Regions from separate parts of the Homo sapiens genome. Here regions 2, 3, 4, 5 and 6 are each reported to be linked to region 1. Evidence: microRNA targets listed by miRTarBase, many of them from high-throughput screens and not tested one by one. Region 1 holds a microRNA gene; each other region holds the end of a gene's coding sequence.
What was found. The annotated mature microRNA hsa-miR-7977 reads UUCCCAGCCAACGCACCA and lies in region 1 at 1,821-1,838, opposite strand. An mRNA with a match to its seed (bases 2 to 7 or 8) in the 3' UTR can be bound and repressed. Matches are read on the target gene's strand: a 7mer-m8 pairs with bases 2 to 8, a 7mer-A1 pairs with bases 2 to 7 and ends in A, and an 8mer does both.

Region 2: the mRNA of SRP19 is a reported target of hsa-miR-7977. Seed matches in the 3' UTR shown: 7mer-m8 at 2,501-2,507, 7mer-m8 at 2,367-2,373 and 7mer-m8 at 2,174-2,180.
Region 3: miRTarBase lists VMAC as a target of hsa-miR-7977. Seed matches in the 3' UTR shown: 7mer-m8 at 3,180-3,186.
Region 4: miRTarBase lists CCDC122 as a target of hsa-miR-7977. Seed matches in the 3' UTR shown: 7mer-m8 at 1,475-1,481 and 7mer-m8 at 1,609-1,615.
Region 5: the mRNA of ZFAND4 is a reported target of hsa-miR-7977. The part of its 3' UTR that is shown has no 7-base or 8-base seed match.
Region 6: the mRNA of SVIP is a reported target of hsa-miR-7977. The part of its 3' UTR that is shown has no 7-base or 8-base seed match.

What each region holds. Positions count from the first base shown.
Region 1 is chr3:176,512,718-176,516,940 of GRCh38, reverse strand. It overlaps MIR7977 (microRNA 7977), which reads right to left and starts at 1,838; the gene lies at 1,790-1,838.
Region 2 is chr5:112,867,038-112,871,037 of GRCh38, reverse strand. It overlaps SRP19 (signal recognition particle 19), which reads right to left. Exons shown (of 5, transcript NM_003135.3): 5 at 1,250-3,634. The coding sequence ends at 3,501. Among named protein-coding and RNA genes, the nearest start is that of SRP19, 7.8 kb to the right of the region's middle.
Region 3 is chr19:5,908,573-5,912,795 of GRCh38, reverse strand. VMAC (vimentin type intermediate filament associated coiled-coil protein) reads right to left here. Exons shown (of 2, transcript NM_001017921.4): 2 at 1,943-3,972. The coding sequence ends at 3,654. Among named protein-coding and RNA genes, the nearest start is that of CAPS, 3.6 kb to the left of the region's middle.
Region 4 is chr13:43,833,989-43,838,211 of GRCh38, reverse strand. CCDC122 (coiled-coil domain containing 122) reads left to right here. Exons shown (of 7, transcript NM_144974.5): 7 at 783-1,860. The coding sequence ends at 932. Among named protein-coding and RNA genes, the nearest start is that of CCDC122, 44 kb to the left of the region's middle.
Region 5 is chr10:45,612,523-45,616,745 of GRCh38, reverse strand. ZFAND4 (zinc finger AN1-type containing 4) reads left to right here. Exons shown (of 10, transcript NM_174890.4): 10 at 175-1,246. The coding sequence ends at 310. Among named protein-coding and RNA genes, the nearest start is that of ZFAND4, 58 kb to the left of the region's middle.
Region 6 is chr11:22,819,766-22,823,988 of GRCh38, reverse strand. It overlaps SVIP (small VCP interacting protein), which reads left to right. Exons shown (of 4, transcript NM_148893.3): 4 at 856-4,223. The coding sequence ends at 870. Among named protein-coding and RNA genes, the nearest start is that of LINC02718, 7.5 kb to the left of the region's middle.

The DNA of each region.
Region 1 (4,223 bases):
AATTTTGATGACCAATTTGACTATAGTTTATTTATTTTAATGGATTGTGGTCTCAATGTTATATTTAAGAAATTATTGACTAGCCAAGGTCAAAAAGATTTTCTCCTGCATTTTCTTCTAAAAGTTTTACAGTTTTAGCTCTTACATTTAGATCTTTGATCCATATTGAGTCAATTTGTGTGCATAGTTTGAGATAAAGGCCTAAATTTATCCTTTCTGCATGTTGGATATTCAATAGTCCTAAAATTAGTTGTGGAAAAGACTGTCCTTTCTCATTGAATTGGCCTGGCAAATTTTTTGAAGAAAAAGTTGACACAATTAGAAGGCTTTACTTCTGGACTCTCAGTTCCATTACCTTATTTATAGGCCTATCTTTATGTCAGTACCACACTATTTTGATTTCTATAGCTCCATAGTAATTTTATTTGTTTGTTTGTTTATTTATTTATTGAGACAGGGTTTCGCTCTGTCCCTGGGCTGGAGTGCAGTGATGTGATCTAGGCTCACTGCAACCTCTGTCTGCCAGGCTCAAGCCATCCTCCCACCTCAGCCTCCTGAGTGGCTGAGACCACAGACATGTGCCACCATACTTGGCTAATTTTTGTATTTTTTGTAGAGATGGGGTTTTGCCATATTGCCCAGGTTGGTCTTGAACTCCTGAGCTTAAGTAATTCACCTGCCTAGGCCTCCCAAATTGCTGGGATTACAGGTGCGAACTGCTATGCCTGGCCTACAGTAATTTTAAAATCAGAAAGCTCTTTTTGTTTAATTAACGAAACTTCTTTTAAGACAACGATAAGCTTTAAACATTTTCTTTTTTATATTATCTCTCTCCTCCAGTTTTTGTTTTGTTTTGTTTTGTTTTCCCAGTACTTTTCTTTCACAAAAGAAGCCTTCTTCAACTGTTAATTCTTGCTTATCTTCTCACGTTTAAAGACGGAGATTTTAAAAACTGTTTGAAGCTCTGAACGCATAGGTAAGACTGGTATACTTTGAGCTTCATTGCAGGATGATGTTTCAACTATAGTCACTGTTTGAGCATAAGTCAGGGAATAATTTATAAAATATTTGGCAACATTAAAATAATATGTCTTCTTTACTGGGAGAAATCTGCCACTGATTTTCTAAGCGAAGAAGCAGAAAGCACATGGGAAAAAATGATGTCACTGCCATCTTGACACGTTTGAAATCACAAATTATAGAAAAGTTGTATTCCTGATCGAAGAATCACTAGTATTACAGGAGTTATTAAGAAATTATTTTAGGCAGCAAGAGAGGGGAAAAGAGTCCTTGGTAAGGCTTTTTCTTTTAATAAAAAAGCAAGCCCCAAAACATTTCTTTTCTAACAGAAAGTGGCCTGAAAAACCAGACCTGCAAGCATTGATATGCAAATGCTGGTGGCTAGAAGCCAGGTCCAACCAATATGGTGGTTCCCGTGACTTTTTCTTTGTTGCCACGTATGCAGAACATCATGGTGACCAGCCAGGTAGCCATATGTGCATATTTAAAGGCTAGGGTGGGAGAGCTGGCTTTTTTGCAGGCTATGTGAATGACACACCTGGTCAAACCAATCCCCTGGCTCCTATGCAAACCAAACACCACGTCGTCCAGCCTCCCAATATAACCGACTGCTTTCTGCTACATGTGGGGTTTTCCATTTGGAGCCCTCCTCCCTCTGTATGAGGGAGCTGTTTTCTTCTTTCTTGCCTATTAAACATTCCACTCCTTAAACCACTCCACGTGTATCCGTGTCGCTAATTTTCTCCGTGCGAGAACAAGGACCTTGGGTGTTTCTCCAGACAACAGACCCATATCATTTTTGGTGCGTTGGCTGGGAAACCAAGGTACAATATCCATTGGGGTTGGTGAGCAGAAGAGCAAACTCAAAACCTGTCCTTTCATTCCGAGGCTCTTGGCTTCCATTTTAAAATCAAATCAAATCAATAACAGCATCTGTCAACCATCTAGATATGCTTAGTGTGGCTGCCATTCTTAAAGACTCGCATGTCAGCCTTGCTGGGGAGAACATGAAGACCCCCCTCCCTCCAATACCCTGGGTCATTGGGAATGTTGGCCGTGCTTCAAACCAGCTTTTCTGTTCATGGGGAAAATTAGCCATTGCATAAGGCGGGGAAAAGTTCTGAAGCAACTGAGAATTTCTGGCCAGGGCATTTCCTAGTGTTATTCAAAAGCTTCTGGACCGGACTCAGCCTCCAGCAGCCTGCCCAGGTGTTGGTAAAAGATCCCCAGTTATCCTGTCGCAAAACTTTTTTTCTGTTTCTATCCACGGTCGCTATGCCTCTTATTCTCTTTGTGTGTCGAATGTGTGGGAATTTTTACAGCCTAGGGAAGTAATCCTGTTAGGCAAGATCAGGAAATGCTGTAATAACCGGGGCTATAGCTCAGGAAAATGCTGTTGCAATCTTCTAGGAACAGAGGTCTCTGAAACCCCGGTTGTGAGATGAGTCCCTACTATGCTGCTGGTGGCACATAGTATTCCTAAGCCAACAGCGCCACCTAGTGGAAATAGACACCCTCTTCATAAGACGCATTGCTTGTCCGCTACAGTCCACCGCAGCTTCCTAATTTTTCCTTTTTGCCCCTTCCTACTGGAAACCAGGCTTTATGCTGCTTCTGTGAACAGGAAAATTCTGCCTTCAACAATTAGGAGTAAATTGTCCTCTGCAGCCAAATTTGAGTCCTGATCCTGTCCCATCAACAGGAAAGTCACGATTAGGCCCCCACATCCCTTTAAGGAAACTATTCTGTCTCCAATAAGACAGTCCTTAATTAGTAAGGGGATTTTAAGTCTGAAAGTTAACCAGAACCATTTTTCTAAGGGTTAAGGCTTTAACACGGGCCATAGTAGCAGGCAATCTAGCACATTCCCTCCATTAAAGGACACTTGCCTTTTATATAATCTTTCCCAAGGTCAATTTTTTTTAAGGGAGGCACACAGGTCACACAAGTCTAGGAAGTCAAAGGGAAATCACAGGCAGAGGACTAGAGCTACTTGAATGAGCATGACTAGCCCCAGTTGCTTGGTTTCTTTGGTGCCATGGCTTGGAGGGTCACACATACAACCATGGGCAGCACATTTAACAGGGTGCTGGGACCCAGGAACCAAGGAAGGAAAACAGTTGGGGGGACGCTCCCACTGTCTTCTTCTCCACTCTGGGTTATACAGAGAGAGGAAGGAGACAAAAGAGACACCTTTTTCTCACTTCTCTTTCTAGATGGGTAACAGATCATGTTCAGCATGTACTCCCCTGGAGTATATTCTAAAGCACTGGGACTGCTTCAACCCTGAGACTTTGTAGAAAGAGCACCTCATATTCTATGGCATAAGGGCATGGCCTTCTTACCATCTTTAAGACAGACAAACCTGGCCTGCTGGGGGGAGCCTTCATTTTAATACTGTCCAACAATTAGATATTTTCTGCAGATGGAAGGACAAATGGTCTGAGATACCCAATGTACAGGCTTTCTTTGCCCTGCGAGACGACCCAGACCTTTACAAGCTTTGTACAATTGACCCAGTTCTTTTAGCAGCATGACAGGCAAGCCCACAAGGAATAGTCCCCCAGAGCTAAAGCAGATTCCAGAGGAGCAATCTGAGACAGCTATTGAATGTCTCAACTCAGTTCCCCTCATCCAGAAGCCCCTCCAATCATACCATCAGGTCCTCCAGGTCCACCATCTCCAGTATTACCCACTTTCCCCACTTCATTCTTATCTCTGCAGGAAGTGCCTGATGAAAATCGTGCCATGAGGGTTCACGTTCCCTTCTCATTACAGGACCTTAAGCAATTAAAGGGAGACTTAAGCAGATTTTCTGATGACCCCAATAAATATATAGAAATTTTCCAAAATTTAACTCAGGTGTTTGACCTCACATGGAGGGATGTTATGTTGCTCCTAAGTCAGGCCTCACTGAAGCTGAAAAGCAAGCAGTTCTGCAGGCAGCAGAAAAATATGAAGATGAACAACATCTCCTATGGCAGACCAAAGAGAAAAAAAGGAGATAGGGAAGGTGAAGAAGTAATGGAAACTCCATTCCCACTAGGAAGAGAAGCAGTTCAAGTAGACAACCCTGATTGGAACCTCAATAACTCAGCAGATAAATGGAAAAGAAAGCACTTTTAAATGTGCATATTAGAGGGCCTACGATAAACCAGGGCTAAACCTCTTAATTACTCTAAACTGTCCATGATAGACCAAAA
Region 2 (4,000 bases), not on the chromosome of region 1:
TACTAAAAACTACATAAATTAGCTGGGTACAGTGGCAGGCACTTGTAATCCCAGCTACTCGGGAGGCTGAGGCAGGAGAATCACTTGAAACCAGGCGGCAGATATTGCAGTGAGCTGAGATCGCACCGCTGCACACCAGCCTGGGCAATGTGTATTTGGCTCATGATTAGGAGCTGGGAAATCCAAAAGCATGGCACCTGTATATGGCAAGGGTCTTTGATGCTGTGTGATCCCATGGTGGAAGGTGAGAGGACAAAGAGGGTGCGCTGAGGAGAGCAAAAGAAAAATTTGGCTGAACTCCATTTTATAACAAACCCACTCCTCAGATAGTAACATTAATCCATTCCTGAGGGCACAGCCCCCATGGCCCAATCACCTCCCAAAGGTTCCACCTCTCAATAACATCACAATGGCAATTAAATTTCAACATGCATTTTGGAGGGGACATCCAAAATATGGCACTGACAATCCTTATTGCCCCAAAAGTAAACCATTTCCAGATTTCAACCATCTTTCTGTGACAAATCTTTTCAGTTGGCTACCACAGTACGTTTTTTTTTTTGAGACAGGGTCCAGCTCTGCTGAGGTGAGTGGAATAGCATGATCACGGCTCACTGCAGCCTCACCTCCAGGGCTCAAGCAGTCCTCCCACCTCAGCCTCCCAAGTAGCTAAGACTATAGGCATGTGCCACCATGCCCAGCTAATTCTTTTTTTTGTAGAGACAGTCTCACTATGTTGCCCAGGTTGGTCCCGACTTCCTGGACTTCAGTGATCCTCCTGCCTCAGCCTCCCAATGTGCCGCGATTATAGGTGTGAGCCACTGTACCTGACCCAGTATGCATTCTCAACTACTTTCTTCCTTAGCTGCCTTGGCTGTCAGGACTGAAAAAGCTATGCAGTCATCCCTCATCTGTGGTTTCACTTCTGTGGTTTCAGTTACCTTGGTCCCAAAACAGGTGAGTATAGCACAATATTTTGAGAGAGACTGACAATTTCCACATACATTTTATTATAGTATATTATTATAATTGTTCTATTTTATTGTTAATCTGTTACTGTGTCCAATTTATAAACTTTATCATAGGTATGTATTAATCCATTCTCACACTGCTATGAAGAAATATCCAAAACTGATTAATTATAAAGGAAACAGGTTTAACTGACTCACAGTTCCGCATTGCTGGGAAGGCCTCAGGAAACTTACAATCATGGCAGAAGGCAAGGAGAAGCAGGCACCTTCACAGGGCAGCAAGATGGAGTGACTGCAAGCAGGGGAAACGCCAGGCACTTATAAAACCAACAGATCTCCTGAGAGTCACTCATTATCTCAAGAACAGCACAGGGGAAATTGCCCCCATGATCCAATTATCTCCACCTGGTCCCACCCTTAACACATAGGGATTTGGGGATTATAATTCAAGATGAGATTTTGGGTTGGGTAGCAGCCAAACCATATCAAGTATATATACATAGGCAAAAACATAGTATATATAGGGTTCAGTACTATCTGCTGTTTCAGGGATCCACTCTTGGAATGTATTCCCCAAGGATAAGGAGGACTGCTGTGTTCACTTTCTCAGCCTCCTTTGCAGCTAGAGATGGACCTGTCACAGTTCTCAACAATGAAACTAAGTGAAAGCCTGCTGGGAGGAATTTTGAGAAATCTCATGCCTATGGTCTCAGCTACTTGGGAGGCTAAGGTGGGAGAACTGCTTGCCAGAAGTGGCTGGCACAGCTACCTTTTCTTCCTGCCTTGCACTCATGTAAATATCAGCCCTTTTACAAGCAGGAACAATAATCATAAAGGTGTTAGAAATATGTCATGGACAGCAGAGCGGAAAAATACAAAAAAGGCATCACTGAGAGCTAAACCAACCACCACAGCAACCTCACTTGGATTTAACATATGAGGCAAAAATATCCTGCTTAAATCCTTCATTGTTTTGTTACACAGCAAACACATCCCCTTATTGTTTTGTTACACAGCCAAACACACCCACTTTCTCAAAGAAGGCTGCTCTGAATTATGTTTTACACATACTCCCCTCTCCCCAGGATTTATTTGTAAGTCAAATATATAAACTAAGTCTTATACTATTATGTTCACTATAAAACAGAAATTGTTAGAGTTAAAAAAAAAAAGTCAACAGGCCAGCTAGCTCATGCCTGTAATCCCAGCACTTTGGGAGGTTGAGGCAGGAGGATCACTTGAGCCTGGGAGTTTAAGACCCTGTCTCAATTCAAATAAATAAATACATATAAATCTCCACAACTCTAGGTTTGCTTATTTTACAATCAATAGGAATGTTTGACTGTGAGCAATAAAAATGTAAAGAAGGCCGGGCACGGTGGCTCATGCCTGTAATCCCAGCACTTTGGGAGGCTGAGGTGGGCAGATCACCTGAGGTCGGGAGTTCGAGACCAGCCTGACCAACATGGAAAAACCCTGTCTCTACTAAAAATACAAAATTAGCCGGGTGTGGTGGCACATGCCTGTAATCCCAGCTCCTAGGGAGGCTGAGGCAGGAGAATCTCTTGAACCTGGGATGCAGAGGTTGTGGTACGCCGATATCGTGCCATTGCACTCCAGCCTAGGCAACAAGAGTGAAACTCCATCTCAAAAACAAACAAACAAACAAACTTAAAAAAAATGGAATTTACTGAAAATATGAGATAGCTTGCAGAATTCAAGGAAGAGCTAAACCAGGCCTCAGGAAGAACAGGAATTGGGATAGCTCAAAATCACTACTTTCAGAAACCGCTCTGAAATTCTGGAGCACCAATCCAATTTCATTTGTTGAAGGAAAGTGTACCTCAAGGTGCTAAAGCACAGTTAATTTTACAACTCCCATGAAAATCATGTTCTTAAACCTACAAAATAAGCAAATTTAAAGCTTAAAATCCAGGACTTTCCATGTCAAAAAACAACTGAACGATTCGATTACAATAATATATTAAAATATCATCTACAGACTGGCTTTTTACAGACTCCCCTGTCCCCCACCCACAAAAGGACCTACCACAGTTTCTTCTAGTTTTAGCCTCACACTATGGAAACTTTCACTACATATTTTATTCTTAATTATCCCTCCTCTCCTAGCATTAGTATATAAGCAAAAGCTGCAAAAGTCAGTTTCAAATTTTATTTCATTAACTTAAAAGGTGGACAAAATGTTTATTTTAAATCTAATTGAAATTTATCTGAAACAACTTATTTCAAGTAACTTATTGTACAGTCCATTGTCCATTTAAAAATATTTTCTTCCAAAAAACTGCATTGAAAGACAAAAAAATTCTTTTATACGGCATATACGCGAGATGCAAACTTCTGATGTAAATTTGTTTCACTGTCAACTCCGATGATAAAGATGAGAGGCACAAGGGTTCACAGTTCAGTTAAATGATGCAAACAAAAAGCTTCTGTTTCCCTCCGATACAAATTAGAAGTCTCCATTCATGTCTCTTACAGTAGTACCACATACTTGATGCTGATACTAGGTTACTTCTTTTTCTTTCCTTTCCCTTTTTTACTTCCCTCTCCTTGTTGAAGACTTTGGTCAGCACCTCCTGTTTTTTGTGTCCTTGTTTTTAGTTTAGGTATCATTTCTGCTGCATACAACATTACTGACTTACCTAGGAACCAGAAGTTAGGCTTAGTGTATAATCTGAGAAATAAGACATAAAAAGTCATCAAATTGAATATCACAAAGTGTAAGAAACTATCACATCAAGAAAATGGAAAATAACTTTTTTAAAAAATCAAAAATCAAATGACTGAAGACACTGACTAGCTCAAGTCGGGGGAAATGTACTGAGAGTGAGAATAATGCTGAAAATATTTAAATGAATAAAATCAAAAGGCAAAACACTAAGTATGAAACAAAAATTTTGGTTTGGTCCTAGTAATCAGCTTGAAGATCTAAGGAGTATGTATCCAAATATACCTCAGGTAGAAACAGAGTCAGAATATCACTGTATCTTAAGACACTGAAATACAGG
Region 3 (4,223 bases), not on the chromosome of region 1:
CATCTCTACAAAAACTACAAAAAATTAGCCAGGCATGGTGGTGTGTTCCTGTAATCCCACCTACTTGGAAGGCTGAGGCAGGAGGATCACTTGAGCCCGGGAGTTGGAGGCTGCAGTGAGCTATGATCGCACCACTGCACTCCAGCCTGGGTTACAGAGCAAGACGCCCGCCTCTTAAAAATAAGTAAATAAACTGGCCGGGCACGGTGGCTCACGCCTGTAATCCCAGCACTTTGGGAGGCCGAGGCGGGCAGATCATGAGGTCAGCAGTTCGAGACCAGCCTGGCCAACATGGTGAAACCCTGTCTCTACTATAAATACAAAAATTAGTCAGCCGGGTGCGGTGGCTCATGCCTGTAATCACAGCACTTTGGGAGGCCGAGGCAGACAGATCACCTGAGGTCAGGAGTTTGAGACCAGCCTGGCCAACATGGTGAAACCCTGTCTCTACTTAAAATACGAAAAACTAGCTGGGCGTGGTGGTATGTGCCTGTAATCCCAGCTACTCGGGAGGCTGAGGCAGGAGAATTGCATGAACCTGGGAAGCGGAGGTTGCAGTGAGCCGAGATCGTGCCATTGCACTCCAGACTGGGGGACAAGAGCAAGACTTTGTCTCAAAAAAAAAAAAAGAAAATTAGCCAGGTATGGTGGCGGGTGCCTGTAATCCCACCTACTCCAGAGGCTGAGGCAGGAGAATCACTTGAACCCAGGAGGCAGAGGTTGCAGTGAACCAAGACCATGCCACTGCACCACAGCCTGGGCGACAGAGTGAGACTCTGTCTCAAAAATAAATAAATAACTTAAAAAAAGAGGCCAGGGCTGGGCGCGGTGGCTCACAGCTGTAATCCCAGCACTTTGGGAGGCTGAGGTGGGCGGATCACTTGAGGTCAGGAGTTCAAGACCAGCCTGGCCAACATTTTGAAACCCCATCTCTACTAAAAAAAATAAATAGCTGGGCATGGTGGTGCATGCCTGTAATCCCAGCTACTCAGGAGGCCAAGGCAGGAGAATCACTTGAACCCTGGAGGCAGAGGTTGCAGTGAGCCTAGATCACACCACTGTACTTCAGCCTGGGTGGCAGGGTGGCAGAGCCAGACTCCGTCTCAAAAAAAAAAAAAAAAAAAAGTTGCCTTTGGAGTCTGAAACCAATCTGTAGGTTACAGGCATCCCAGCATCTTGATTCAGGCCACCACTGATGTAACATCATCAGTTTTATGAGAAATCATGGTGACATCTGGCTGCCAAAATCCTGGTGGCTCACTGCAATCCAGAATTATTTAAATAGGCAGAGAAATACTTTCATGTCTATGAGTGTTACAAGCAGCATTTTTTTTTCTGTGTAGAGAACTATAAAATATAACCACTATTACTGAAGTGCTGTTTTGGCATCTCATTTGTAAATGTTTAGTAAGAATTTCTTGGGAGGCCAATGCGGGAGGATCACTTGAGGCCAGGAGTTCAAGACCAGCCTGGGCAATGTAATGAGACCTTATCTCTAGAAAAAATGCAAAAACGCAGCCAGGCATGGTGGCATATGCCCATGGTCCCAGCTACTTGGCAGGCTGAGGTAGCATGATAGCTTGATCCCAGGATTTTTTTTTGAGACGGAGTCTCCCTCTGTCGCCCAAGCTGGAGTGCAGTGGTACAATCTCGGCTCACTACAGCCTCCATCTCCCGGGTTCAAGTGATTCTCCTGCCTCAACCTCCCGAGTATCTGGGATTACAGGCACGCGCCACCACACCCGGTTAATTTTTGTGTTTTTAGTAGAGACGGAGTTTCACCATGTTGGTCAGGCTGGTCTTGAACTCCTGGCCTCAGGTGATCCACCTGCCTTGGCCTCCCAAAGTGCTGAGATTATAGGTGTGAGCCACTGGCCCAGCCAAGACCAGGATTTTGAGGCTGCAGTGAGTTGTGATCACACCATTGCACTCCAGCCTGGGCAACAGTGAGACTTTGTCTCTTTAAAAAAAAAAGAAAGAAAGAAAGAAAACAGAATTTCAGCAATAACTTCCCCCAGAATTGGAAGTGGCCCTGGCCCTCCAGACCCGGAGTGTGTTCCCTTCACACCTCTGGGCCTCTGTTTGTTGTTGTTGTTGTTGTTGTTGTTGTTGTTGTTGTTTTCTTTGAGACTGAGTCTCACTCTGTCTCCCAGGCTGGAGTGCAGTGGTGCAATCTCCACTCACTGCAACCTCCGCCTCCCGGGTTCAGTAGCTGGGATTACAGGCACCCGCCACCAAGCCCGGCTAATTTTAGTATTTTTAGTAGAGACGGGGTTTCACCATGTTGGCCAGGGTGGTCTCGAACTCCTGACCTCAGGTGATCCACCCGCATCCCAAAGTGCTGGGATTACAGGCGTGAGACACCGCGCCCGGCCTGGGCCTCACTTTCCACAGCTGTAAAATGAGGACAAAGCCTGTGTCTACAGGGAAACTCGAAGATTAGATGCAATCGCTGTAGAGAGTGCTTGGCCTACACTCCCTAGATTCTACCTGGCCCAGCAGGACCCTACCAGGAGGCACAAATAACACAGAGGGCCTCCCTCTTGCCCCCAGGCCAGGAAATCATCCGGTTTATTCTTGAGCACAGACAGGCCCCAGCCTGCCTTTCCTTTGTACAAACAACCCCCCTCCTTGTTCATCCAGAGGAGAAAATGGGCCCATTGTTACTGCACTGAGGGGTCACTGTTGCCAGGCAGGCAGGCGGGCGCCATCCTGAAGGCCGTGGGTGGCCTCCGACCTTTCTGGTCTGAAACAGGCTGTGCCCCTCGCCGGTTCCTGGTGTGACAGTTCCTGAGTGAGGAGGTAGGGGAATGGCTGCCGACCAGGCCAGGGTGACAGGCTGGCCCAGAAAGGCACAGGAGTTTTCTCCTTTCCCTGGTTTGACAACAAGCAAAGCACCCTGAATGTCCTGGGCTAAGAAGGACAGCGCAGAAACAAGGAGTTCAAAAATATATTCTTTAGGGCGTATAAAAAGGAGACAGTTGCATGCTACAAAAGCTAGGCTAGGGCCGGGCGCGGTGGCTTACACCTATAACTGCAGCACTTTCGAAGGCCGAGGCGGGTGGATCACCTAAGGTCAGGAGTTTGAGACCAGCCTGGTCAACATGGTGAAACCCCCTCCCCTCCCCGGTCTCTACCAAAAATATAAAATATCCGGGTGTGGTGGTGGGCGCCTGTAATCCCAGCTACTCTGAAGGATGAGACAGGAGAATCGCTTGAACCTGGGAGGCGGAGGTTGCAGTTAGCCAAAATCGCACCACTGCACCCCAGCCAGGGCGACAGAGTGGGACTCTGTCTTAAAAAAAAAAAAACAAAAAACAGAAACTCACACCCTGGCTAAAGAGGGTGCCCTGAACTCCAGGCAAGCTTGGCCAAGTCTTGCCAGAAATCCAGATCTTTGTGTTTGCATTGCCAGGTTTTTAGCAAGGGTGACTGATTCAAAGCTTAAAAACAAACAAGAACACTTCTGTCTGGGTTAAACGTCTGCACCTGGCCTGTGGGCCTATTTGAAAACTTTTTGACTGTTCAGCCTGTTCTGATGCTTAGACAGGACTTTGGCTCTGCCGTAGGGTCCCCCTGCAGGGTGCTGGTGACTCCCAAGGACACTGACAGCAGTGGCTTTCTGTCTCCATTCTGTAATCTGCATTCCGGGCTCACACTGTGGTCCCAAACACTGCAGGCTGGAGGTGGTCCCTGTCCGCCTCTTCCCCAGTGCTGTTGTCAAGGGGTGGACCAGGCCCACCGGGGGGTGGGTGGCCGGGGTCACTGGCCGGCAGGGGCCCCAGGCGCTCAGCCTCAGCCAGGGCATCCAGCAGCCCAGCCAGGGGTGGCCGGCGGCGGCAGATGTCCTGCAGCAGCTCAGCCCGGGGCTGCAACTGCCTAATGAGCTCGTCCCTCTGGTGCACGGTGGCCTGCAGGCTGTGGACAGTGGCTTCTGAGGTCATCAGCTGCTCCTGGAGTGTGGCAATCTCACTGGCAGGAAGGCAAGAGGAGGTGATTACAGAACTGAGGACCACAGCACCTGCTCCTCCCTGCTCTGGACCCGCAAGAGGTTCCCCATCACCTTTGGGATAAAGCCCGCATTCCTCACCACTGCCTCAGGGTCCTCCCTGGTTATGAACAGAATGTTTCTTTGTTTTTATTATTATTATTATATTTTATTTTATTATTATTTTTTTTTGAGACGAAGTCTAGCTCTGTCGCCCAGGCTGGAGTGCAATGGT
Region 4 (4,223 bases), not on the chromosome of region 1:
CTTTAGACAAATTTAAATTTAATAAAATTAAATTTAACAGAGCTTAATAGAAGAATGATTAGAGAAGCAGCAGCCCTCAGAACCAGCAGAGGTTCAGAGAGCTCCACTTCACAAAGTGGGCAGGCAACATTTATGGACAGAAAATGGAAATGAGGAGCAGAAAGGGCTTGATTGCTCTCAATGGCTCAATGTCTGTTTTATTTGAATATGGTATAGTCAGCGGACCACCTGTGATTGACCAAAGCTGGCTGCTGTGGTCGACTGAGTCTCAGCTATTGTTACAAAAATATACTCCTAGTTAGGCTTTTAGTTAGTTTAAATACTGTTAGATTGTAGTTCCTTACATAGGGACTCAAAGTAGAGTCCCCCAGGGCAAATTTAGTTTAACACCGGTAACTCTCTTAACAAGAAGGTATTCCATTATGGATATTTCACTTCTGCTAACCTCCCAAACTCCATCACTTGCTAGCTATGAAACTTTGGTCAAATTACTTGAACTCTTTTATCTTTGGTTTCTTCACACAAAAATGAGGATAATAATACCCATATCATAAGGTGTTATAAGAATTTAATTATATGCAGAAAGCTCTCAGCACAGTATCTAACATGTAATAAGTGTTGAATAAACAGTTTTACAATTACTGTTTATTTTTATCATAATTATTTATAGTGGATAGTTTCTAATTAAGTGCTTCCCTCTTTAGAGTAGTCAAAATATTATTTATGGCTGTTTACTATTTATACTTCACAAGCCCTGTTGATGTGTGCTCTTCTTTTGATAGGTACAACATAAGAGGTATGATGCAATTCTTAAGCGTTTGCATTGTCAGGTGAACAAGCTTCAGTCAAATAGACGACAGTGGCAATGGAACATTCAACAATTGGAAAAAACTGCAGCCGAATTAAGAAAATGCATTGGAATGCAAGAGTAACATTGCCATAGGGCAATGTGGAACACAGACCATGACAACAAAAATTACTGGACAGAACATTAAGAAAATCTTTTGGATTCTTAATAACAAGCATCCACTATTAGAGACCTGTCTTAATGACAGATGTCTTCGGTTGTTGTTTTTTTTAAATCAGTCATCGATTTGTTAAAATGCCTTCTAACCCTACACTTGATAGCAGTAGACAGACAATAGGAATGTCTACGGGAAAATAATGCAAGAGTCTCTGTGACTATTTGGAGTGTGTAAAATGTATTATACTCATGAATACCTGTTTATGTTGCATTCACTACCCTATGAAGTAAAAATTTAGAAGGGAAAAAACACTCGAATTTTCACTGATTTAAATTGTTAAGATTTTTAAAATGTTTGTCTGTTTCGAACTTTTTTTTTTTTTTTTTTTTTGAGACGGAGTCTCGCTCTGTCGCCCAGGCCGGACTGCGGACTGCAGTGGCGCAGTCTCGGCTCACTGCAAGCTCCGCTTCCTGGGTTCACGCCATTCTCCTGCCTCAGCCTCCCGAGTAGCTGGGACCACAGGCGCCCGCCACCGCGCCCGGCTAATTTTTTGTATTTTTAGTAGAGACGGGGTTTCACCTTGTTAGCCAGGATGGTCTCGATCTCCTGACCTCATGATCCACCCGCCTCGGCCTCCCAAAGTGCTGGGATTACAGGCGTGAGCCACCGCGCCCGGCCTGTTTCGAACTTTTTATTGGAACTTGTTTTTTTACAGCTGCCTTCACAGTAGCCCATAAATATTGATATTTATAATAATGTTTTTGTATGTTCAATGCTTCAAATATTTTACTCCATTTTCTCTTTTATCCAGAAGGTAACAATCATTTTTCTTTGTTATAAAATAACATATTTTGAGTGATACGATGAATAAAATATTTTGTTCACTTTCTATAAATTATTCGTATTCTGTGACTAAATTAAAGTTATAACATCATGTAACTCTTAAGAGTATTACTCACTATAGACTAACATATTTTTTCTCACTGAAAGGCAAAATGTCAATAAATCAAATGTTAACTTGTCCCTTTCAAGATAAACGTGCTCCTCCTTTTCATGGTTCCATTGAGTCAAATACTTAGAAACAAAAACAAATAGGAAGATATGGTTTTAAAATATTCATTTGTAGGATTAAATAATTTCAAACAGCATCAAAAAATATTTAAAATCCATTTTCTCCTTACCTTTCTATGTGCTAAAATTCAGTAAGTGGAGCTGATATAAAACCTGATATTAATAATCTTATTATGTCTAACAGTAATAGTTTTATTGTGGCTTAGCATGGCTTAATGTGGCTTACACTTCAAACAGCTTATCCTGTAACACAATCAGCTTTGGTCCATGACTCAGAAACAAAGCTACAGTGAAAATGGTGAAACCTACAGATTGTGGGGAGTACACACTATACTCGGCTGGAGATAAGCCAGAACCAAATGCTGATTATATAAGTATATTTTAATGTAACTTGCATATTAAAAAGTTATTATATTTTCTAAGTGTAGTTATCGCTTATAAAAAATTATAGTTTTCTAAAGTGTTTTAAAGTTTATATTGAGATTCAAAATATTTGTAAATGATAACACCTTGAGTTATAGATTCAAAAACTTGTTTTTAAATTCAGATATGAAGAAAATAGCTGTAATCTGCTTAAGATAATGTGCTCTATTTTTAAAAGTAAGTTTTAATGTAGTTTTCTAAAATATCCTTAATACATATACCTATTTTACATTTTATGACAGTCAAAAATTCTTTGAAAAAGAAACTTTTTCTCCTTGTTCTTTCTTTTTTTATTATACTTTAATTTTTAGGGTACATGTGCACAATGTGCAGGTTTGTTACACATGTATACATGTGCCATGTTGGTGTGCTGCACCCATTAACTCATCATTTAGTATTAGGTATATCTCCTAATACTATCCCTCCCCACTCTCCCCACCCCACAACAGGCCCCAGTGTGTGATGTTCCCCTTCCTGTGTCCATGTGTTCTCATTGTTCAATTCCCACCTAGGAGTGAGAACACGCGGTGTTTGGTTTTTTGTCCTTGCAATAGTTTGCTGAGAATGATGGCTTCCAGCTTCATCCATGTCCCTACAAAGGACATGAACTCATCATTTTTTATGGCTGCATAGTATTCCATGGTGTATATGTGCCACATTTTCTTAATCCAGTCTATCATTGTTGGACATTTGGGTTGGTTCCAAGTCTTTGCTATTGTGAATAGTGCCGCAATAAACATACGTGTGCATGTGTCTTTATAGCAGCATGTTTTATAATCCTTTGGGTATATACCCAGTAATGGGATGGCTGGGTCAAATGATATTTCTAGTTCTAGATCCCTGAGGAATCGCCACACTGACTTCCACAATGGTTGAACTAGTTTACAGTCCCACCAACAGTGTAAAAGTGTTCCTATTTCTCCACATCCTCTCCAGCACCTGTTGCTTCCTGACTTTTTAATGATTGCCATTCTAACTGGTGTGAGATGGTATCTCATTGTGGTTTTGATTTGCATTTCTCTGATGGCCAGTGATGATGAGCATTTTTTCATGTATCTTTTGGCTGCATAAATGTCTTCTTTTGAGAAGTGTCTGTTCATATCCTTTGCCCACTTTTCAATGGGGTTGTTTGTTTTTTTCTTATAAATTTGTTGGGGTTCATTGTAGATTCTGGATATTAGCCCTTTGTCAGATGAGTAGATTGCAAAAATTTTCTCCCATTCTGTAGGTTGCCTGTTCACTCTGATGGTGGTTTATTTTGCTGTGCAGAAGCTCTTTAGTTTAATTAGATCCCATTTGTCAATTTTGGCTTTTGTTGCCATTGCTTTTGGTGTTTTAGACATGAAGTCCTTGCCCATGCCTATGTCCTGAATGGTATTGCCCAGGTTTTCTTCTAGGGTTTTTATGGTTTTAGATCTAATGTTTAAGTCTTTAATCCATCTTGAATTAGTTTTTGTATAAGGTGTAAGGATGGGATCCAGTTTCAGCTTTCTACATATGGCTAGGCAGTTTTCCCAGCACCATTTATTAAATAGGGAATCCTTTCCTCATTTCTTGTTTTTGCCAGGTTTGTCAAAGATCAGATAGTTGTAGATATGCGGCATTATTTCTGAGGGCTCTGTTCTGTTCCATTGGTCTATATCTCTGTTCTTTCTTATCTTGGAAACTATTTCAGATAATAGAGAATTTCAGATTAATTAAGAACTAAAATTTGAGGTATCCAAAGCCTGATGATTTAGTGGATATGATATTTCAACACAATCA
Region 5 (4,223 bases), not on the chromosome of region 1:
CTTTTTGGGGGTATTTATGCTTGTTTACGAATGGAAGGGAAATGTCAGCAGTGAAATTGCTAAAAAGAACCAAAGGGCCCCTGTTGGACTACCTGAAGTCAAGCTCCTGTCTCCCAGACAGATGAGCCTTTCATAGAAATACAACTATTCACGTAAACTTTTTTTGTGCTTTAGATGTGGAAACAACTTCTGTGCATCTCATCGTTATGCAGAAACTCATGGCTGTACCTATGATTACAAGAGTGCAGGGAGGAGATACTTGCACGAGGCAAATCCTGTGGTTAATGCACCAAAGCTTCCAAAAATCTAACTCTTCCTCTACATCTTACTGTTCTGCCCGGGATTCGTATTATAATGACAGAAGAAATGTTGTTTAGACTATTATTTTTGTTCGACTCTAAAAGATTTGCCAAATAACAAAAGCATACAATGCATACTGTTGGAGAACAAGAATGCTACTGTATTTTACATCTTTATTTCTTGGTGAAACAAAAGTTTTAAAAGTAGTTTTAACAACTTTACACTGGAATGATTTAGCTTTGTTATTGCATGTCTTGTGTTAAGTGTTTTGTATATGATATTGCAGTTTTACTAGGCAAATCTTCAAAAGATGCACTTTAGGAAACGAAATATTTCCTAAATAACCAGGCTTCCACATTGTACAGAATGAGCAGTCATGTAATGAATGGCTCTACTCAGATTGACCATATGGGTTTTTTCTTTTTCTTTCTTTTATTCTTCTCCTTCTTTTTTTTTCAGAGGTGGGATGGGTGGAGATTTTTTAAAAATCCCACGTGTGAAAGTTTACTGGCTTTATTAGCAAGTTCCTTTTTACTTCAAGCTACTTTTTATAAAAAAGAACATTTTTCCAGTGTGGTTTTTAACAGATAATACATTTCTTCCACATTCAGATTAGTATTCGGACATGAATCCATTCTATAAAACACATCGTGTTCATGATAGTGTATATTTTACTACTTTTTGAATGTTAATTTTAAAATAGAAGATGTCCCACTTGCCATTAAATATAGAAGCCAACTTTTTACCTTTTGAAATATGGCTACATTTAAAACAAAATCTCACAGCTCGGTTTTTCTTATTTGTTGAGTGCTATTACCAGGAGAAATTCAAATAAATATTCAATTTCATTATGAATTTCATTATTTATTTATAATAGTTTTTCTTTTATAAATAATTTTTCTTTTATAAAACTATTTAATTAAATGAGTGATTTATTTTACGTGGATAAAATAACTATCAGTATAAAAATATTCTTTTAGGATATTAAGGACCCTGTTCCCCAGGTGTAACCAGAAACCACTAAGGCACTTAGTGGCCACTTGCTGTATAGAAGCTCAGTTCAGACTGATGCTGAACCCTGGTAAACAACTAGCACCTAACCCAGGTAGACTCTGCAGCCCTGGGGTAGCAGACTCTGCTAAGAGTACCAGACTCTGCTAAGAGTACCAGAAGGCTAACTTAGGAGCTGTGAGGGGCCCCTTCCTCTACTTAAGGCTGAATGAACTGGAGAGCTCACTGCCCCTGCTCCTGTAAGAAATGAAATGTTGATGGAGACAGATGCCTTCAGACAAAGAGGGCAGTACATTCATAAGAGGGAATGGCTAAAAGTTAGCAGAGGAGCTATGCAAATGGGGGTTGAAGGCATGCTTTTTAAGAAGGGTGGATATAAGTAGATGAAAAATACTTTCATCTGTGTTATGAATAATTCAGTATTTCCTCCTGTATCAAGAAGACACGTGTTTTAGACACTTAAAATATAAGAACTGCCTTACAGAGTTAGACTGCTGAGAAATGGACCATAGCATATTTATTCTGCAAACAAATATGAATGCCTAGGGCCTACTTGATGTAGTGTGCTATGCTTTTTAAACCAAGACTATAAGTAGAAGTAAGTCTCATTCTAAGTTTTACTAAAGATTGTGGTGAAAGTTAAGTCTTTTTACTAGTTTTCAATAACTGACAGCTGAACTATTTTAATTCAACAAGTTATATCATTATATTGAGGGGCATTTCTTTATGCTTTAAATTCTTACACAGACACATTCCAAATTTTAGAGACATTGTATCTGTCTTTGCATTTCCAGTAATTAGCAGAGTAGATTGCCTGTAGGTACTGGTTAAACATTAGTTGAATAAATTGATGCATTGGACAACTTAACCGTGATTTTTTTTTTTTTTTGACATAGAGTCTTGCTGTGTCACCCAGGCTGGGTGCAGTGGTGCGATCTTGGCTCACTGCAACCTCTACCTCCTGGGTTCATGTGATTCTCCTGCCACAGCCTCCCGAGTAGCTGGGATTACAGGTGCCCACCACCATGCCTGGCTAATTTTTGTATTTTTAGTAGAGAAGAGGTTTCACCATGTTAGCCAGGCCAGTCTTGAACTCCTAACCTCAAGTGATCTGCCCACCTTGGCCTCCCAAAGCGCTGGGATTACAGCCATGAGCCACTGCACCTGGCCCATGCTTTTTTAAAAAAGGCATTTATATTGTTTTATTTAGCTAAGCCCATTTTATGTAACGAAGTTCAGTTTCTGGATTTTTTTAAAACAGCATTTAGTTTTAACAGCACTAAAAGTTTTAAATTTTTAACTTTTGGCTATGTGGAATATTTTCAGGTTATATTTAATGTAATCATTCTAAAAAGGGAAATCCAAATACTCAGGTGTCCTTAAAATCCTATCAGTGTACGTGTAACTTGTGGAGACAATTATTTTTTAAAAGACAGGAATTCATTTTCTCATATATGTTTAATGTGATTTTTCTTTTTTTTTTCTTTTTTTTTAGATGGAGTCTCACTCTGTTGCCAGGCTGGAGTACAGTGGCATGATCTCAGCTCACTGCAACCTCTGCCTCCGGTTCAAGTGATTCTCCTGCCCCAGCCTCCTGAGTAGCTAGGACTACAGGTGCGCACCACCACGCCCAGCTAATTTTTATATTTTTAGTAGAGACAGGGTCTCACCATGTTGGCCAGGATGGTCTCAGTCTCTTGACCCCGTGATCCACCCGTCTCAGGCTCCCAAAGTGCTGGGATTACAGGCATGAGCCACCGTATCCAGCCTATGTTTAATATGTTTTTAAGCCATCAAGACGAATACTCAAATTTTGCATCTAGTCATGTTTTTCAAAGTGTAAGCCGTCTACCACTCCTGGAACGTGAGATAATTTTAGGTATTACATGGGTGAACATTTGTAATAATTATATATTTTAATGTATTGGAAAATGTAAGTATAAGCAGCTTAAGTTGAAAATAATGTAAAATAAATTGATTTAGGTTAAAAATGTTGGTTTAAAATTGGCAAGGATTAATATAGCAAAAATCATAAAAATAAAACAATGAAATTTAAGGAATGAAGGCATGATATTTTAAGTTTTCTTTGAAAATTAAGTTAAACTTTTGAAATGGTTGATGAAACTAATATACATAGCTTTAGAAAAACTAAGGGTTAAAAAGTAAAATTTTATCATAGACACCCCCCTCCAATTTCTTCTAATAATTAATTTTAGTTTTTCTAGTTGTTACCATCATAACACTAGCCAGTATATTTTAGACGTTATTTTATTCTACTCTACTATTAAAAGTGAGGAATTAGCTTAACAACACATTACCTCAATACTTCCTAATTTTTGTCAGTGTATTAGTCTTTTCAGGCTGCCATAACAAAGTACCATAACCTACAGAAATTTTTCTCACAGTTCTATAAGCTAGAAGTCTCAGATCAAGGTCCAACAGGGTCAGTTTCTGGTGAGGGCTCTCTTCCTGGCTTGTAGACAGCTGCCTTCTTGCTTTGTCCTCACATGGCCTTTGTTCAATGTGTACACACAAAGTGGGTTGTGGGTGGGAGAAGAGCATGAGTGCTATCTGGTGTCTCTTCTTCTAAGGACACTAGTCTTGTCAGATCAGGGCCCCACCCTTATTACTTAATTTAATCTTAATTACTGTCTTACTCCAAATACAGCCACACTAGGGGTTAGGGCTTCAAAGTGGGAATTTTGAAGTGGGGGGCACATGCGTTCAATCTGTAACATACTGTCCGTGGCCTGCCAAAATCTGTGTTCTTGTCACATGTAGATATATTCTCTTCCATCCCAACCACACTAAAAGTCTTAACTTGTTTAAGTATCAACTCTAAAGTCTAAAATCCAAAGCCTAATGTAAGCATAAATCAGGTATGGCCGAGACTTTTGGTACCATTCATTCTG
Region 6 (4,223 bases), not on the chromosome of region 1:
TTGGGAGGCTGAGAAGATGGGATGATCACTTGAGGTCAGGAGTTAAGAGACCAGCCTGGGCAACATAGCGAGACCCTGTCTCTACAAAAATAAAAAATAAATTAGGTGTGGTGGCATGTGCCTGTGGTCCTAGCTTTTCGGGAGGCTGAGGTGGGAGAATGACTTGAGCCTGCGAGGTTAAGGCTGCAGTGAGCCATTCCCACCTCACCCCAGCCTGGGCGATAGAGTGAGACCCTGTCTCAAGAAAATCCCAAAACAAAACCAAAAACATTTAACGTGGAGTGAGTTTATTACTTACAGATTGGCAACAAGGGACAACAGAAGCCTAGGATTCATTATAAGCTTGTCTCCCAAGGAAAACTGCCTGGGGTTGATGACATCTGTGTGTGCCCCACTTGAACCTCAGATGAGTGCCCTGGGTTTTATGACCTGGGGGTTAGAAGGGGAGGTACTACATGACTCCTTGGGCTAAAGCATTGAAGGACGTCCTGTCTTTAGGGAGGGACTGGAACAGAACTTGAGCTGTCCTTGGCCATTCATTTGCTATCCCAGGATGTTACATTCCCAGCACATTCTACAGTTACTCTTGAAAACTACAGGCAAGACAGTGAGACAGAGCTATCCTGCAACTACCCACCAATCTGACCAGATATTTTGTCTTCTTTATGCTTTTAAACTATCATCTTATTTCAGGCTTTGGACTATAATGTAAAATTTTATGAATAGCTGCTATTCAGAAAAATCATTTTGTATTTCTATGTCCCATATTCCTCTTTTTACCTGTTTGTTCACTGAAGTACTGTTATATAACTTCAAGTAAAATTTACTTTTCTGTCTCTTTTTTATCTTTTCTAGTGGACAGTTTCATAAAGCATAACATGAGTAGAAGAATCTACTGCCAATAACTGTTTATTATCTGCAATCAAGTGGGCTTCATCAATTTAATTTCTTCTCTTTGAGTAAATGAAGATTCAGACTTTGTAATATTATTGCCCTTAAGTGCAATGCTAAAAAAACGTTGATTTTCAAGCTTAGAGAATGGCTAGACTTTTCATTAAATACTGATTTTCCTACATTTGCTCTTCTGCAGTTAGTGGGTGATTTGCTATTTTTCTTAGTAGTTAAAAAATGGAACTAAATAGTGAATATACATACACTGCATGTAAACATTCTGCATATACCTCTAAGATTAAAATTCGCAGTTGTCTTTTCATCCTTTATAAAATGATCTAACTACTTATATTTGTGCTGCATCGCGTTACATCTGTTTTTATTTCACTATGAAGATGTTTGATTAAACTTATGGACTTAGTGCCTTTAAACTGATCATCAGGGAGAATCTTGAAAAAATCATTTGAAGGGCTGATGTGAAGGAGCACTGTAAATTTTTATAACTTAGTAATGAGTATTCTTAGGCAGATGTAAAATTTTTTCCAATTTATTTTTATTTATGTAGCTTATAAAATTAACATACCCTGTTTTACTTTATGATAAAGGATTTTTTGTTTGCTGAATTTAAAATTATATATTAGTGATACCATCAGAGGGCAGTGATGTTCTATTGTATATTAAATTCAGCTCTGTAAGGATCTTTGTAGTAATTGAATGAGTTAAACTAATAATCTGGATGGGTTATAATGAGTAGTAATATATTTGTCCATATTTCATAAGTAGTGTTAATCTTGTGTACTTATTAGAGAACGATCATAAGATTTATACAGATGTGAAACTGCGAAGGCAAGTATGAATGTATGAAAAAAACATGTAGGTACTGTACTTACAAAAGGTCTACTTCAGATATAAAAATATTAGGTAATTCTATACAATGCATAGTCATAAACCTTAACATTTTTGTTCATTAGAAACATGAATTTTATAGCATTTTTTGTTTCTCCTATATAATACACTGAAATAAAAGAATTTGTGTTAGCTATTAAGGCTGATAGCTCTTTTAAATGGCAAGGCCACATGTTGAGCCCTAAATTAAAATTTGCAGATATTAAGTGCTAATAGAAATTTTAAGTTAAATCGACCAAGTTCACTTGCTTTACACAAAGGAAACTGAGCCACTATCTTCATCTACCCCTCCAACAAAAATTATGTTATACTGCAGTGTATTGTACATGTTAATTTTTAAAAGTTTGAACTATTATATAATACAGGTCTCTTGACTTCTCATGGAAAAATTATTTTTTCTATTATGGTGTGAAATATTGTGTGAATATCTAGGCAAAACATAACAATTTGGCTCAATTTTCTTCTTTAGAGGATTCGTGCTGTTTTTGTTCATAAAGGGTAGTGAAATCATTGAACTATATTTTAGAATGAAAATTTTTGATTTTATTAAAATGATTTTTTCAAGGCAGAAAGTAAAAGGAATGATTGATAGCGGAGTGCATATAGAGCTAGAGCATATCATCCTTGAACTCTGCAAATCCTTTCTTCCATTTTAATATAGCAAGAACAATTTTGTCTTTACTACATCTTAAAGAATTAGAACTTGGGTTGGTGTAAGTGACTTACTTCCAGGGAATCATGCCCTATTTCTACCAGCAGGTCATACCCAAATGTCACACTATCTATTGTTAACCATGAATGATATTCAGATCTATTACTTTTCGTGAAAAGTGGAACATGTTACTTCCAACCATGGCCTGTCACCGTGAGTGTGATCAGCTTTCTCCAAAACCACATGGGTCGCAGGAGCTAAGGGGTGGTACCCAAATGTTAGGAACAGTGTTAGGAAAGGGCAAGGGAAAAGAAGTGACTGGATGTCTTATGAGAAACCGGTAAATGACTAAAAAAAAAAGCAAATGACTAAAAACATGACTAAAAAATTATATATATATATAATATATATATTATATATGTGTGTATATATATACACATAATATCTGCAAATTCTAATTTATATATGTGTGTGTATATACACACACACACATGCACATACACACATACGTCCAGACATCTCCCTCATAAAATAACCATCAGTTTCTATGAAAACCTTAAGTGGAAGCCAATTTCCCATAGTAAATAATTTAGGAGAAAATTATAATGCTTAAAATGTTGCTCAAACCCCTGACCTATTACTAAACTATAATTGGAACAGTAAAATGCATATATGTAACTATCATATCATGATTTAAAATTGCTTAAACCATTGCTGCTTAATACTAATCAAACTTAACGGCTGCTAACAAAAGTTGTGAATTATTACACGGCCTCTTTGTAACGTGCTGCATGTTTTTTAAAACATCTCTGTGTTTCTGTTTGTTCCACTGCTGGTATTTGGAATGTAATTTAACAGTTCTCACACATGGTTTGGTTATAAATTCTGTATTGCCTTTTAGGGATATAAATATACATTTTTTTCTATGTAAAAATTAGCTTTAGCTGTCTCTTTAACAAAATTTTATCTTTACTACATCCTAAATACTTAGAACCTGAGTTGGTGGTTAGGGAAACCTCAGGAACATTTTAATCACATTGGGATTCAGAAGAGCAACAGAACCAAAGGTTGTTTGGTGTGTTCATACAATCCCTGGATTTATAGGTGGATTTTCTATAAAGGAAAAATGATGTAATTAGTATCCTGTTTTTTCCTAAAGAAATAATACTATCATAAAAATTCTGTCTATCCTTTGTACCCCAGGAAAATGGACATGAACTTTGAATTTTCCCTTTCTCCAAATGTTTGACTTTTTATTTTCACTGATAAGCATTATGCTATGTTCTTAGAAGACAAAAGCAGCTCTTGCCAGTTTTGAATAATTTCTGCATGAATAGACCAGTAAGAGGTAAGTAGCCATGACTGCCTATATGTGTTGAGACATAAGGTATATTTCTTTAACATCTCCAAGCAAGCATTTCAAATTCTCTTAACTACTAAACATGCTCTAAGCTAATTCAAATATAGTATTGTGGCTTTTTTCTTCAATTTTCTCAAAAGCTACAGACACAAGGCATTTGTATGTATAACAGACTTTGATGAAGTTTTGGTTCCAGTAACTCAAAACACTAAGTTTCCCATTTGATATGGCTTTTTATTGTTCTAGTCTCCCTCTTCTAGTTATGCTTCATCTTGCAAATATTGACTTTGAATGTGATAACTATTGCCTACAAATTAAGTATTCATACATTACTCCTGTGGATATCATACTTTTTTGTTATTATATCCTGAATTGCATTGGCTTTTTTTGGTTTTGTTTTGTTTTTTGAGATGG